2 linked regions of the Homo sapiens genome follow. The protein of the gene in region 1 purifies or fractionates together with the protein of each later gene. This does not show direct contact. Each region holds a gene or a part of one and is shown on either strand. Other genes may lie near its edges.

Region 1 (4,464 bases):
TGCTCTTTCCCTCACTCCCCACATCCAACTCCTCAGCAAATCCTGTGTTCTCTACCTTCAACAGCCATTCTAATTCTGGCTGCCTCTCCCTCCCCGCTCTTGCCGCGTTTGTGACATCTCGCCTGGATAGTGGCAGCAGGCTCCTCACTGGTCTCCAGCCTCCACTGACATTGATTCTCACCACAGAAGCCAGAGTATGCCTTGAAATCGCTCAGGTCCCTCCTCACAGCCCTGTCTAGAGTAACAGCCCTCCCAGATTTACAGAGCCCCATCCCACCCCTTCTACCCCCACCTCCTACTGTCTGCCCCTCCCCAGGCCTCCCAGCCTCACTGGCCTTCTTGCAGGTCCTCAAGCACAACAGGCCTGAGGGCCACTGCGCTGACTGTTCCCTCTGCCTGGAATTGGCATGGCTGGCTCCCTCATTTCCTTCAAGTATTTGTCCAATGTTACTTTCTCAGTGAGGCCTACCCTGACCACTCTATTTGCAATTGCAACCTCCCTACTCCCACAATTTCCCATCTCCCTTACCCTCCTCTGTTTTTCCATGCCACTTATTATCTTCTAACACATTTATTATGGTGTACAGTATTAACTGAATAAAATTTAGTAGGGGAGACAGGCAATAAACAAGAAAATAAAAGCATGAGCATAGGAAAGTTTACTCTAGCAGTGAGTGCTCTGATGGAAATAACACCCCAGGGATGGGACAGAGACTGCAGGGCAGGTTGCTTTACAATGGTCCCAGAGGAGACCACTGAGCAGAGACTCAAATCTGTGTCCAGAGGCGTCCTGAGGAGTGGAGCTGCGGTTGGGGGTGGGAAGGAAGGCCATTCTAGGCTGCAGGAACTGCAAGGGCAAAGGCTCTGAGGCGGGAGCCAGGTTCATGGGCAGATGTTTGAGGACACCTCCGGCTTCCAGGGCCTTCCAGAAGTTCCAGTCTCTTGGGTTTGGTTGTGCATTCCTGCGACCTTCACCGCAGGCCTCCTCCTCCACCCACTAGTGCAGAGCCTGGGGGCTGCCGGTGGGTTTCAGGCCAGGGAAGCAGAAATGGGTAATTTCCAGAGGCAGAAATCAGCCGACCCCGGTGGCCCGGTGGGTGGCCAACAAAGCTTGGCTGGCCCTCGCGGGCTGTGTAGGAGCCCACCCTAGGGAGGTACCCAGAGACATCCCTGGTTTGGCTCTGCCGGGAAAGTGGGCCGAGCAGGGAGAGGGGGACCAGAGAGGAAGAGATGGACAGAGTTTTCCGGACGGTGGGCTGGGTCCGAGGCCCGCGGACCGTCCGAGGGGGGCCTCTGGGTTCGAGGCCGCCCGCACCGACCAGTGCTGTGGCTCGGGCAGTTCACCGCCCTCTCGGGCCTCAGTTTCCCGCCCTGGCAGACCTCGAGGCGGCCTCGGAGATCCCGGGCCTGGCGAATACTGGGCGGGGAGGGGCGTTAACTCCAGCCTCCCGGGCGGGGTCTCCCGGCTCCCGCGGCCACGTTGCAGCCCAGGCGGAGGCGCGGGATCTCGAGCTGGGATCGCCCTCTTGGGCTTCGGTGCGATCGGCGGCGGGAGGTGAGAGTGGGCCCGGCGGGCTCCGGGAGGAGGTGGCCCCAGGGAAGGTGTGGCCGCGGGGAAGTGGCGGCGAACAGCCCCGACGCGAGGACGGGGAAACCAAGGCGGCAGCCAGGGAGACCCTGACCGAGGTGACCTCTGTTTAGGGCGACAACCGGGTTGGGGCTCCCCGCAGTGGCCACTGGCCCGGCGGTCCCGCACCCCCAGCCCGCCTCTCCTCCAACAAAAGAATCCAGGAAGACGGTGGGGCGGGCGGGAGGCCCGGTGTGCGGTGGCCTGGCCCCCCTACTGGTGGAGAGGAGGGAGCGCCCTTCCCCAGACGCGGGGGAGGGGAGGGGTCATGGCCCCACGGGCTGCCCACCCCCTCCCTGTGCCCCAGTGCTGGGCCCAGGACCCCCAGTGAGGCCACTCCTCTGGCAAACATCTGTGATCTCTTCCCCCTTCCTGGGCCCCCCCTACTGGAATGGCGTCTCTCCCCATCCAGGGGCCTGGCTTGTTTTTCTCCATAACCCTTAGCATTACCGGTCCTTATGTTATCTCTTATTTCACTAATTATTCTTTCATTAATTTATTAGTATTTATTTTGTTTGCCTACAGTGTGTTTCCCCCTGTGGGAATGTAGGCTCCAGGAGGGCGGGAGACTTCGATTTGTCCACTGATGTATCCCCATTAATTCAACAGATCCCTCCTGAGGGCCTCTCTGAGCCCTGCACGGTGCTGGGTATTGGGGTTCTCCTGGGAACTTAGCTGAGCCCCACCCTAGACATTCTGGGGCTGGGAACAGTGCTGTAAACACATATGACATCGTCGTGGGATGAAGGAAACAAACCAGAAATGGGGGGGTCTACTGGTCAGGTGACCTTAGGTCAGGCCACCTTGGTGGTCAGGGCCACCTTAGATGATATGGTGATCATGGAAGGCCTCCCAGATTAGGTGACTTCAGTTAAAGCCAGGAAGTGCTAGAAGGGAAAAGCTAGGAACCATGAGGGCATGTGTAGCTCTGACCTGGACTCAGGCAGGGAGCTGGGGTCTGAAGAGTAAAGGTCAAGACAAGGGGACCCATCCCCTTAAGCTGCTCAGGGGTTCCTGGCTGGGTGGATGGGTGGGGGGATTCTCAGGGGTCAGGGAAGGCTTCCCGGTGGAGGCTGTGGTTTCATTAGGCCTCGAAGGTGGAGTAGGAGTTCTCATTCTTTGGGATAAGCTGACTGGGCTTGAGAATTGTTTTGCAGGTTCCCTGGGAACCAGGTGGTCGAAGGGCTGAGCTGTGTGGCCAGACAAGAGGTCCCTGCCCTCCCCCAGTGAGCCCTGCTGGTAAGTGGGTACAGTGTGAGGGATTTGGGAGACGAAGCTCTGCGTCTCATTGGCCATGTAACCTTGGGCAAGTTCCCCTCACTGCGCTGGGCCTTGGTTTTCCATGAGTAAGGACAGCTGGACTAAGTGCCGTTCATGATGCTGGGGGCACCCACATTCAATGGCTGTGGTTAGCTCTTCTCAGCTGTACCCTGGGTTTGTGCCACACTCTTGTGTACAGAGTAGCTCCCCATCTGGCCCTGAAGGCTGCAGATTGAGACAGAAAAATAATGTTTTATCTGAGGAATTGGAGCCCCTTTAAATAATCAGGCCCAGACATACTGAAACGCAACAGCTGTCAAGTCTTACTCCTCCCTTGAGCTAAAGAATTATCTCTTTTTCTTTTTTTTTCTTTTCTTTTCTTCATGTCAGATCGGTAATGTGCCTACATGGTAACAAGGTTCGAGGGTGGCACAGCTCACACATGCATGTGAACACCCAATCATCACGCTCATGAACTACAAAAGGATCAAGAATTACCTCTTGAAGCCACTTGCTATGTGGCTCTAGAGTGACACCAAGTAGCCATAAAATGCTGTACACTGGACACCCTATAGTTCATACCCTATAGTTCAACAATGTATAGCCAATCACTAATCAATGTTATTTCTTTTTTTTTTTTTGAGATGGAGTTTCTCTCTTGTCACCCAGGTGGAGTGCAATGGCACAATCTTGGCTCACTGCAACCTCTGCCTCCTGGGATCAAGCAATTCTCCTGCCTCAGCCTCCCGAGTAGCTGGGATTACAGGCACCCACCACCGTGCCTGGCTAATTTTTGTATTTAGAGACGGGGTTTCACCATGTTGGCCAGGCTGGTCTCCAACTCCTGAGCTCAGGTGATCCACCCACCTCGGCCTCCCAAAGTGCTGGGATTACAGATGTGAGCCACCGCACCCCACCAATCAATGTTATTTCTATAAACCAAGGAGAATTCCTGCCAAACAACTTTGTCATCCTTGCCCCCTTCTGCCTATAAAAACCTGTAGGAAAGGCCCAACGCAGCACACCCCACGGCAACTTAGAAGTTTGTTCTGGGCAGTTATCCTTACTCTCGCTCAAGTAAACTCTTTAAAGTTATATTTGTGCCTCAGCTTCTGCCTGTAGGTCAATAAGATTCAACAGCTATATGCAAATAAGAGGCCAGTAGAGGCCCAGGAGGGTCATGGAAACCCTGGAAGCTTGGCCTCAGAGTTGGAGTTGAGAGGACCCCAGATGAGGGGATAGTTTAAGCACAGTGGTTTCGATGGGTCTGGGGTCCATTTCAGCTCAGCTGGGGCCTGTTTCTTTGGATTTTAGAAAGCCGTGCCCAGGTCCTGCCATGCCTCCTGTCTGATGCAATCTCGTTATTCTTTTCTCGAAGTCCGCCAGTGTCCAGTTTTTTTTGCATGATCCTCACGACATCCCTTTGAGAGAAAAGGAAGGAAAGACGAGCCCACTTCTCAGGAGACTTTAGGGACCTTAGGGACACAGCAAGCGAGTAGGAGTCCCAGGGCTGGGGTCCAGGTTGCCTCTGGAGCCGGTGCTGTTCCCCAGGAGGGCACGGAACCACCTCCCTCTCT
Region 2 (3,815 bases), on another chromosome or scaffold:
GCACCTATTATATCCCAGATCCTTTATGTATATATAATTTTACTTGATCCACTCAAATGACTTTCTTCTCTCTCTCTCTTTCTATGTCAAGTATCCACCATGTATCAGGAGATATCAGAGGCAGGGGAGACACAGCTATAAACAAAAATGGAAACTAAATCTCACAAAATTGAGTAACCTATCTAAAGTGTTTATGGAATCCATATTTCAGTCTCTGGCTGGGTAGAACAAAATGCTAGGCACAAAGTAATTGCACAACAAATCCTTACTACTGTGAACCATTATTGAACCATACTTAGTACGTCTCCCATTTCTAGAAGAATGAAACATGTAACAAATGATTTCATGTAGTATATGTCTATAGTACCTCGAGTACAGAATCTATGAACAAAGGTTATCATGTAAAAATTTTGTTAGCTACATTTTTGGTTCCTTAAAACAAATTTTTAACAAAATTTTGTTGTTATTGTTATATACCACTCCCAAACTGCCTATGTATTTCCCCCTAGAATACTACCTCCAACAAATTTTTTCTTTGACAAATCTTGTCCAGTTTCTTTTTCAAATCCCCCAAATACTCATTGCTTCTATAAGCCTCTCCAGAATAATACAACCTGGGTCAGTAATTTCTACCACTTGCTTTCTTTTCTACCTCCCAAACACAGAATATAGACCAATTTCCTTTGGATAGGCATGAGTTGGATTTAACCAGGTATTTACTACAGGGCATAATAATAAATCAAGGTTCCACTTACATTATTATCAGAGTTAATCATCTGTACTTTAAGTTCTGCCTTTCTTGATCATAACAGTCTACAGTGCATCCTCTTCAGAAGGAAAGTTGATTTCTGTATTATGCCTTGTATCTTTAGTTATCTTTTTACCTGTCATGTTTCATCTCCATACCTCTACTGTAATGTTTCTTGAAGACAGACAGTGGGTCACATAATCTTTTATAATGACACAATATGTGGCCCAAGGCCTTCATATTAAGAAGTATTTAACTAATAGGTTTTTTTTTTTTTTTTGGCTGTTCTGTTTAGAGATAGCAAAATCTAAACAGTTTAGGTGTACCTGGATCCCTTGTGGAAAAAAGCGAAAATGCAGAAAAAAAGTATTTTCATTTACTGTGCTTCACCAACTCCTCCTAGTCAAGGGAGAATGTCTTAAAATAATCAAATGTGGAAATGACCTTAATTAATTAATTAATCTTGCCTAAATCATTATTCATGCTTTCTGGGTATTTCTCTTCTTTCAACAGACTGTAAATTCCTCAAAGATGGTCTCTATTTTCTAATCTCTCCTTATCAGCACTACCTATTAGTGTTTCTAGATACAGTAAGGTGCTTACTAAATCTTGACCATAAATACAGAGGGAAAAAATGAATCTGGTTCATTTATTAGGGGAGATTCTATGTAGTGATAAATGAACAATTGGGTGAATGGTGGTACCACGTATTGAAATGTGGAAAGAAGGGGAAGAAATAGGTTGGAGGGATGAAAATCAAGATATTAGTTTGAGGTATGTTAAACTTGAGATACCTACTATACATCCAAGAGGAGGAGATGAGTCGGCAGTTCACTGTATAAGTCTAGAGCTTAGGTGACAGGTCAGGGCTGGAGATATAAATTTGAGAGTCATCAGCATATATGGATGATTTTCAAAACCATGACTCTTGAATGAGATCACCATGGCAGCAGAGATAGAGACAAGATAGTATTGCCTCGGGGCACTCAAACATTTAGGGTTAGGAAAACGAGGAAGATCAACAAAGAGGTTCTCTATTGTGTCCTAGAAACCAAGTGAAGAAAGTATTTCAAGGAGGAGGGAATACTTACATCAAATTCTATTGGAGAATTTAAAAAAAGAGACTTGAGAACTATTAGCTTTGGCAAAGTTGAGTTGGTGACTCTGATAAACACCTTTGCAGTGGGGCGGAAGGCATGTAGCCTACAGAGGGTTTAGGAGTCAAAAACGAGTAAAAAGAATAGAGAGAGTGAGTACAGAGAACTCTTCTGAGGACACTGCATAAAGAGGAGCATAGAAATAGAAAGGCAGCTTGAGAAGTGGGATAAGGGAAGGTGTTTTTGTTTTTAAGATGAAAGATGTGTTTGGGTGCTGATAAATGATCCAATACATTTTTTAAAATGATTAATATAAGAAGAGAGAGAGGGGAAATAAATGCAGGTGCAAAGTTAATGAGAGAGAAAGAGATCCAGGACAAATGCTGGCCACAGAAGTAGCAATGATTCATCCATTGTGACAGATGGGAATACAAGGGATATGGCAGTATAGATGCAGACAGATAGCAGATGCAATGGTGGAAAGATAAAGTTTTTTCTTAATTTCATGATGAAACAGGAAACAAAGTCAAGAAATGAGAGTGAGGAGAGGGCAGTAAGCATTGGAGGTGTGAAGAAAAGCTGTGAAATAGTCATCTTGGAGTTTGCTAAGGAACCGGTTGGGGCTGGTGGTCTTAAATTTAAAGTAGACTCGTCAAAATGGTTGTGTCATTTTCTCTTATCATGTTCAAGTGCTTGGTGGAGACCCAGAGTAGGAAGAAAGCTGGAGTTAGCCAGTTTGTTAGGTTTTGCCAGGTGAGTACGACTGAGGGAGCGCACAAGGTGCTAGTTAGAGATGTATGGAAAGGAGTGATTATAGTAATGAACCTCAGGTGGAATCTAGCCTGGGTAAGGAGAGAAGGCACAAGTGAGTGAAGAACAGTGGGAAAAAATGACAGACTGACAATCCTCCGAGGAAGAAAGAATGTTGGATTGAGGGTACTAAATAAGAGAAGGTGCTTGAAATTGGGATTTTAGAGGAGGCTAGTTTCAGGTATTGTTACAATCAAAGTCTTACACTTGTAGTCTAAGATATAATCTGAAAGTTTAAAAATCACCCTTATTTTTTCTTTTTCAACCCATACTCCAATCTATCAGCAAGTTCTGTGAGCTACTTTTAAGACATATTAAAATATTTAAAACATATCCCCAAGTATGAACTCTAACCACTACCATCCTACTCCAAACATGCAACATCAGTTATCTTTTGGACTTGTCTCCTTGCATCCATTTGTGCTCCACTATGTCAATCTTACAAATAGTAGCCAGGATATCTTTAAGCATAAATAAGGTCACATCACTTCCCCTCTTAAAACACTCCAATATCTTCTCATCTCACTTAGAAGAGAATGGAAAGTCCTACACCGCCTGCTGTATCTGGCTCTTGTTACCTCTCTTTATCTACCACTCTCCCCCTTGCATATTGTGGCCTAGTCACACAGGCCTTCTTGCTTTTCCTTAAGTGTACCAAAGCATCCTCTTGTCTCAGGGATTGTGAACTTGTTCTCTCAGGGACATTCCTTTCCAATCATTCTCAGAGATACTCTTACTTTTCCACCTTTCTGTTCAAATGTCATCTCAGAGAGGTCCTCCCTTGTTCCCTTAAAGTGTCTCCTCTCTCTTAAAATGCTTTACCTTTCTTCAGAATGCTTATCACCACCTGCCATTATATTTTAAATTTGTTTACTTTTTGTCCCCCTCTCTACAAAATAAACTTCCCAAGGGGAAAGACTTCATCTGTTGTTCAATGCCCAAAACACAGCACACACAGCAGATCTCGGTAGCATTTGCTGAATGAATGACTCAAAAAATACACACTTCTTGATTAAGAAGATTTCAAAGATTAAGACTGAGTTTCTGATTATCTGAAACAAAATCATTGTGAGAAAATTCAATTAATTCTATGTTTAAAATGCACATAAAAAGACTAACTTTGCAATGTAATATGCATTAAGCAGTTACCTGATCTTTGA

Evidence for each region.
Region 2: the proteins of PHETA2 (region 1) and RIC8B purify together in Homo sapiens (affinity purification with mass spectrometry; one large-scale study listed by BioGRID and IntAct). This does not show direct contact.

The regions. Positions count from the first base shown.
Region 1 is NC_000022.11:42,072,787-42,077,250, forward strand, and holds the start of PHETA2 (sesquipedalian-2), read left to right. Parts: upstream 1-1,461; 5' UTR 1,462-1,555; intron 1,556-2,784; 5' UTR 2,785-2,866; intron 2,867-3,272; exon of another isoform or gene 3,273-3,375; intron 3,376-4,464. UniProt on the Homo sapiens protein: Plays a role in endocytic trafficking. Required for receptor recycling from endosomes, both to the trans-Golgi network and the plasma membrane.
Region 2 is NC_000012.12:106,843,937-106,847,751, reverse strand, and holds part of RIC8B (chaperone Ric-8B), read right to left. Parts: coding exon 3,805-3,815; intron 1-3,804.